2 linked regions of the Homo sapiens genome follow. The protein of the gene in region 1 purifies or fractionates together with the protein of each later gene. This does not show direct contact. Each region holds a gene or a part of one and is shown on either strand. Other genes may lie near its edges.

Evidence for each region.
Region 2: the proteins of LSM14A (region 1) and MRPL1 purify together in Homo sapiens (affinity purification with mass spectrometry; one large-scale study listed by BioGRID and IntAct). This does not show direct contact.

Annotation. Positions count from the first base shown.
Region 1 is NC_000019.10:34,210,504-34,214,003, reverse strand, and holds part of LSM14A (protein LSM14 homolog A), read right to left. Parts: intron 1-3,500. UniProt on the Homo sapiens protein: Essential for formation of P-bodies, cytoplasmic structures that provide storage sites for translationally inactive mRNAs and protect them from degradation. Acts as a repressor of mRNA translation. May play a role in mitotic spindle assembly.
Region 2 is NC_000004.12:77,949,830-77,953,285, reverse strand, and holds the end of MRPL1 (large ribosomal subunit protein uL1m precursor), read right to left. Parts: coding exon 3,408-3,456; intron 863-3,407; exon of another isoform or gene 798-862; coding exon 679-797; 3' UTR 501-678; downstream 1-500.

The DNA.
Region 1 (3,500 bases):
CGAGACCAGCCTGAACAACATGGCGAAAGCCTGTCTCTACAAAAAAAATACAAAAATTAGCCAGGTGTGGTGGCACATGCCTGTAACCCCAGCTACTCAGGGGGCTGAAGTGGGTGGATTGCTTGAGCCTGGGAGGCAGAGGTTGTAGTGAGCCGAGATCGGTCCACTGCATCCAGCCTGGGTGACAAAACTAGACTCTGTCTCAAAAAATACAAATATAAAAGAGCCAAAACAAAAAATGGGGTTTGTACTTATACATTATATTTTTCCTTTTATGAGGTCGCCTGGTCACAGCATGAACTGAAGAATGTAACATCGGGTGCTCCCATCATGCTTTCTGTCCTGATAATGTTTGCTGTACATCTCTGCTTAGGCACTCACATCTCATAATTATTCCAAAATATAATGTTTTGCTTAAAAAAAATGCTCATTTCACGTAAAAAAATCCCCCAAATATGCTGCAAATGTTACTGTCCATCTGTGCATATTTGCAGGTGTCAAACAACTGGTGAGTGCTGACAATGCATTATTATGTACCTAGATGATTCAGGGATAATTTATTAGTAATATTTCCCCAATTTATGATTATCTAAAGTATGCACTTACAAATGTGCAATACCATTTCAGCCATTAATGGCAAAGTTAGCCAAATAAATGATCATTTATCAAAACCCAGAAACCGACACAGGCACAATCTACTTAACATTTCAAAATTAAGTTACCACTAATAGAAGCATTACAATTTTTCCACTGGATTATAATGGGAAATCATGGTTTATGTAAGTTTTGGCCTATGAAAAAAACATTTTATAATCACTTATAAAACACATTTTGTTTTTTGTTTTTTAGGGACAGGATAGGGTCTTGTTCTGTTGCTCTGGCTGGAGTGCAGTGGCGCAATCACAGCTCGCTGCAACTTCTAACTCCTGGGACCCAATGATCTTCCTGCCTCAGCCTCTTGAGTAGCTAGGACTATAGATGTGCGCTACCACACCTTGCTAATTTTTTTTATTTCACATGTCTTCCTGAAAAAGCCTACTGCTACAGTTAATTTTATGGTACTACATTAAATCATCTTATAAGTTTATAAAACTTCTTTATCAAGGCTTTTGAGAAAAGATCCTATGGCTCACAAGTACTACAGAAGTACAAGCAATGGGGCAATCGGAGCAAGTACAGAAACATTTGTTGTGTACTTAAAAAGCCTTTTCACTATTAAGGCCTACTAATCATCATGATGCCAGTTTTGTTATAAACAGGGAAATACAGGTGATACTGTGATACTGGATACATTATTAGGAATAAATCCAGAAGTGATTTCTGCATATTATAGACACACTCCCTTGAGCTATCTTCACAATCTTATCACACTTAAAATTCTAGGAATTTTAATTTTGTGAAATTCAGCAATTTTAGTTGATAAAACTTAAATGCAAACTCTTAGGACTTGTCATTTGTCATAACTTTATGTAAATACACCTCTTTCTTTTAATAAACACATACTTCAAAATTTTTAACATTTTAATCTATTTAAAATTTATATATTTTTTGGTGCTCAGTATGAGGGAAAGAATCTAGAGTGACTTTCTCCAAATGATCAGGCAACATTATTAATTGGAACAGACAGCCTTCTCTCCACTAATTTAAAATAATACCTTTATCATCTACTAAATTCTTTTAAGATGAATTCTTGCTCTGTTGCCTAGGCTAGTGTGCAGGGCCGCAATCACAGCTTGCTGCCACCTTAACCTCCTGGGCTCAAGCAATCCTCTAGCTTCAGCCTCTCAAGCTGATAGGCGCACACATCACGCCCAACTAATTTTTAATTTTTTTAGAGACAGGGTCCTGGTATGTTGCCCAGGCTAGTCTCAAATCCCTGGCTTCCATCTTGAACTCGCAAAATGTTAGGGTTTCAGGCATGAACCACTGCACCCAGGATAAATTCTTATTTATACTCGGATCTGTTTCTGCCTGCCTATTGCTTTCTATTCATCTCTTTCTTTTTTCCTGCATTGCTACATTTTATTATCATGTCAGTAAACCCATTACTTTTATTTTTCAAATATGTCCAGCCACACTTCCATGTTTATTTTAAAGATAAACTGTTTTACTAAGTTCTCCTACTATTCTATTTGCATTGATTTTTAATTAATTTGCAATAAATTTGTTAACTATGAGGAGTAAAGTCTTCCCAACATCTTTTTTTTTTGGGGGGGGACAGGGTCTTGGTTCTGTCGCCCAGGCTGGAGTGAGGTAGTGCAGTTAGGGCTCACTGCAGCCTCGGCCTCCTGGGCTCAAGTGATCCTCCTGTCTCAGCCTCTTGAGTAGCTAGGACCACAGGTGTCCACCATCATACTCTGCTTATTTTTAAAATTTTTTGGTAGAGATGAAGTTTCACTACGTTGCTCAGGCTGGTCTCAAACTCGTGGGCTCAAGTGATCATCCTGGCTTTGCCTCCCTAAGTGCTGGTACTGTTCTTGTTCTTCTATCTAGCAATAAGATATGTTTTTTCCATTACATGCAACTTTTATGTCCCTGTCTTACATTATTTATCATAGAAGTTGGTCATATTTCTTAGTATGACCAACTTATTTCTTATTATATATTTTGTATACAATTTCTATTTTGCATTACTGTAATCATCTTTTCTCCTCATTACATAATCAATGGATTAGGCTTTAGGACTATTAAATTTTTTTTTTTTTTAAGATGGAGTCTCGCTCTGTCGCCCAAGCTGGAGTGCAGTAGCGTGATCTCGGCTCACTGCAACCTCTGCCTCCCGGGTTCTCCCACCTCAGCCTCCTGAGTAGCTGGGATTACAGGTGCACGCCACCATGCCCGGCTAATTTTTGTATTTTTAGTAGAGATGGGGTTTCACCATGTTGGTTGGCCAGGCTGGTCTCGAACCCCTGACCTCAGGCGATCCGCCTGCCTTGGCCTCCCAAAGTGCTGGGATTACAGGCATGAGCCATCGTGCCCGGCCAGAACTATTGACTTTTGTATATTTAATTTACATTTTGCCTGTGCCTAATTTAAGTTCCTTATTAGTTCTCATTCTTCATGAATAATGCTAATTTCAATATTTATGCTTCTTTTTCATGTGTTCCTGATTTAACTAAAAATTCCAGAATAGGCCGGGCACTGTGGCTCATGCCTATAATCCCAGCACTTTGGGAGGCCAAGGTGGGTGGATCACTTGAGCCCAGGAGTTCCAGACCAGCCTTGGCAACATGGCGAAACCCCGTCCCTACAAAACTAGCTGGTGGTGCTTGCTTGTGATCTCAGCTAATTGGGAGGATGGCCTGAGCTCAGGAGGTAGAGGCTGCAGTGAGCCATGATCACACCACTGCATTCCAGTCTGGGAGACAGAGCAGGACCCTATCTCAAAAAACAAACAAACAATCTTTAGAATGTTTAAAAATTAAGCAAGTAGGCTGGACGCAGTGGCTCACATCTACAATCCCAGCACTTTGGGAGGCCAAGGCAGGTGGATCACTTGA
Region 2 (3,456 bases), on another chromosome or scaffold:
TGTTATACTATTAAGCAGAGAAATTCAGGAGCAAATGAGGTCACGTATATGAAAACACTGCATACAGTGCCTTGTAGACTACAAAGCATCATAAAAATATGTGGTATTATTACAAATGTATATATTACATATATAATTATATAATAATATATATTACATATACATATTATATATATAATTACAAACTGATTCCTAAAAAGAGATTACCCAACATACGGTTTAGTGACTTAGTAATTTTCTATATTCATGCTATCACAAATAGTATTCAGAATACTTTAGAATGCTTATTTTCTTTTTTTTTTTAAAAGAAAATAGCTATATTTGTGATGTAGCTCATGATTCTGCCATTTTCTGCTTTATGGGAACTGAGGATGTTACTATTCCCTCAGATGGTTATGACTCCCAAGGGAAAGTTATTAAGCCAGAAACTGCTGCTATAATTACCAGTACGTAGACTCTGGATTCTAAAAAAGAAAATGTCACAGGGTCTAAAAGGCAGGTTCAGACAAAGAGAAAATTTTATTTTCTTATTCTTGAAATGACTGTACGATTTTTCAATGTTAAAGTTCACTTTCAAGTATGATCAATAACAAGACATCAAATGTAAAAATTATGCTGTATTATCATTTTCTCCATTGCTTCTTAAACCACTGAAAGTAATTTCACAATTCACCACATTTAGGCATCTTCTTTTTCACTTTCTTCATTTTTTACTTCTTTAGGCAACAATGGATCAATCTTCAGTAATAAACCTTCACTTGTTGAACTACGAAGGAAAGCACGTACCACAAAGGGACCTGGAAACAAAAACGAGAATCAACTTTGATTTTTATATCGCAATACCACCTCATGAGCAAATAAAGTAGGTCCTCACTTAATATTGTCACTAGGTTCTTGGAAACTGCAACTTTAAGCAAAACAACTTATAAAGAAACCAATTGTACCGTAGGCTAATTAATAAGAGTTAAGTTTCTCAGGCATATTTCTAGTCACAAAAATATCACCAAGCTTCTAAATAAAGAGCTCAAACACTTCTAATATTAACCATTGAAATAAATTTGAACTATAAATACATTTAAGATTAATAAAAGCAATAATTATTTACCCAACTGTGGGTGAATCAGAGTGACAGGAGTCATAGTGGTGGTGACTTAAATCAAAGACTAAGTGTTTGCAAAGTGAAAACTGTAAGAAGCGCCTTCTGCCACCGTGCAGTTCAAAAACAAACTAACAAATATGGTTGCCTCACTGAGTGCTTTCATACCACATCATTTATTGTCCTGCATTTGTATGATTATCATATACTTTGCCCATTTTTATTTTACAATAGTTTGTATTCATTAATTCATCTTCCAACTCCCTTATTCCAGTCCAGGGTTGTGGGAGGCCAAAGCCTATCCTGGCAGGTCAGAGCATAGGTGGGAATGATCTCCGGATAAGCAGCATCTCATTGCAGGGCACACGTACACAACCCACACACTAACTCACACCGGGATCATGCAGACATACCAATTAACCTAACATGCCACCTTTGGGATGCGGGAGGAAACCGAAGTACCCAGAGAATCCATGCAGACATGAGGAGAACATGCAAATTCCACACAGACAGTGGCTCTGGCCAGGAATCTATTTTTTTCTTATCAATGTTATAATAAAATAACATTGAACAAAAGGATGTTATTCAAGGACCTGCTGTACAAATATACAACAGGAAAACTTATAGAACTCATGTCATATTTTCAGTGAAAAGTACTGTATTACTGAACTAATATTTTGAATTATAAGAAGGGGAAGATAGTTTCATTTCTAGAATAGAAGACAAACTAGTTGTACTCTAGAATATTAGAGATTTATCCTTCAAACTACACACACTCACTAATAATTCATTTCTCTCTTCCAGAAGATGATCACCTAGAATTTATTTTATTGCAAAGGCAACAGTGAAGGGAGCAGGTGGTGATATTTACATTTGATGGAAATGTTATAAATATTTATTTAAAACAGTCAGCACAGATGCTACCTTTGTGTTACCACACAGTTGGTAAAATTCCCTAAAAACTAAAATGCTTTTCATAAGAACAACGTTAAGTGGCTTCATTTAAAATAGCAAAAAGACAGCCGGACACCGTGGCTCACACCTGTAATCCCAGTACTTTGGGAGGCCAAGGTAGGTGGATCACCTGAGGTCAGGAGTTCGAGACCAGCCTGGCCAACATGGTGAAACCCCACCGCTACTAAAAATACAAAAATTAGCTGGCATGGTGGCAGGTGCCTGTAATCCCAGCTACTTGGGAGGCTGAGGCAGAAGAATTGCTTGAACCCGGGAGGCGGAGGTTGCAGTGAGCTGACATCAAACCACTGCACTCCAGCCTGGGTGACAGAGTGAGACTCCGTCTCAAAAACTAAAATAAAATGGCAAAAAGAGAATCACAACATTTAAACATGCTAAGGGGCTTCATATGAAATAGCAAAAAGAGAATAACAACATTTTGAGGATTTACTGTCCATCATCTACTCCTACTATTGTCTCAAGAGGATCCTGTACTGAAATCAAAGTTATCTGTGGACTCTAAGAATCCATACACATCCAATTACTTAGTAGTATGGCCATATTTAGGGCAAGAAAATTAACAAGGGTGGTATTTATTCACCAGTATGGTTAACTCCCAAAGAAGGTAAAAAATAGCTTAAGATTGTGTTTTAATTATAAACTTGGTTATAAAACTAAACCTGACAAATTCTTATCATGGTAAGCCTACAAATGAGTAGTCAATTGAGTATAATGGACCCTTGCTTGGCTTCAAGCAGCCACAAGTGAAATTTGTCTGAGGAAGGAATTTGAACAGCACACAACGCAATGATAAAGAAACTGGATGCCTGTGTTCTAGCCTACTACACAGCTTCCACATCTCAATTGAGTTGAGTGATTCTCTATGAGTCACCTCATTTATAAATGACTCTCATGACATAATAAAATGATCTTCTTTCTGTCCTGTAATAAATAAATAAGATTAAGAAAACTAATTGCTAGTGCCAATGACAAAGTGAATGATCTGGTTTCAAAATATCATTTTAGAAATAATTTTAGTCCCTAACATCATTGTAAGTTTAAAGCAATCAGTTACAGTTTTCTTTCAAACTTTGCTACATCTATTATTAGTAATAATGTGGGAATCTACAAAGGTTTCAGGATGCATTCCTTATTAATGCTAGAGAAATCCTTTGGAGAATTAAATTTTATTTATTTAATCCCTGGAAATATAAAACTTGCATGTTAACTTGATTTTTTATTTAATATTTTACATTTTGCTATTATACTTGCATGTTAATTTGACTTTTTTCTTCATATTTTACATTTTAAAGTTTCACAGGGTCATAGGGAAGTCTACCCTCAGCAAACCACTTACCCAAATTCAGCGGTCTGTGCCTACAAACTTCATTAATAACTGCTTGCAG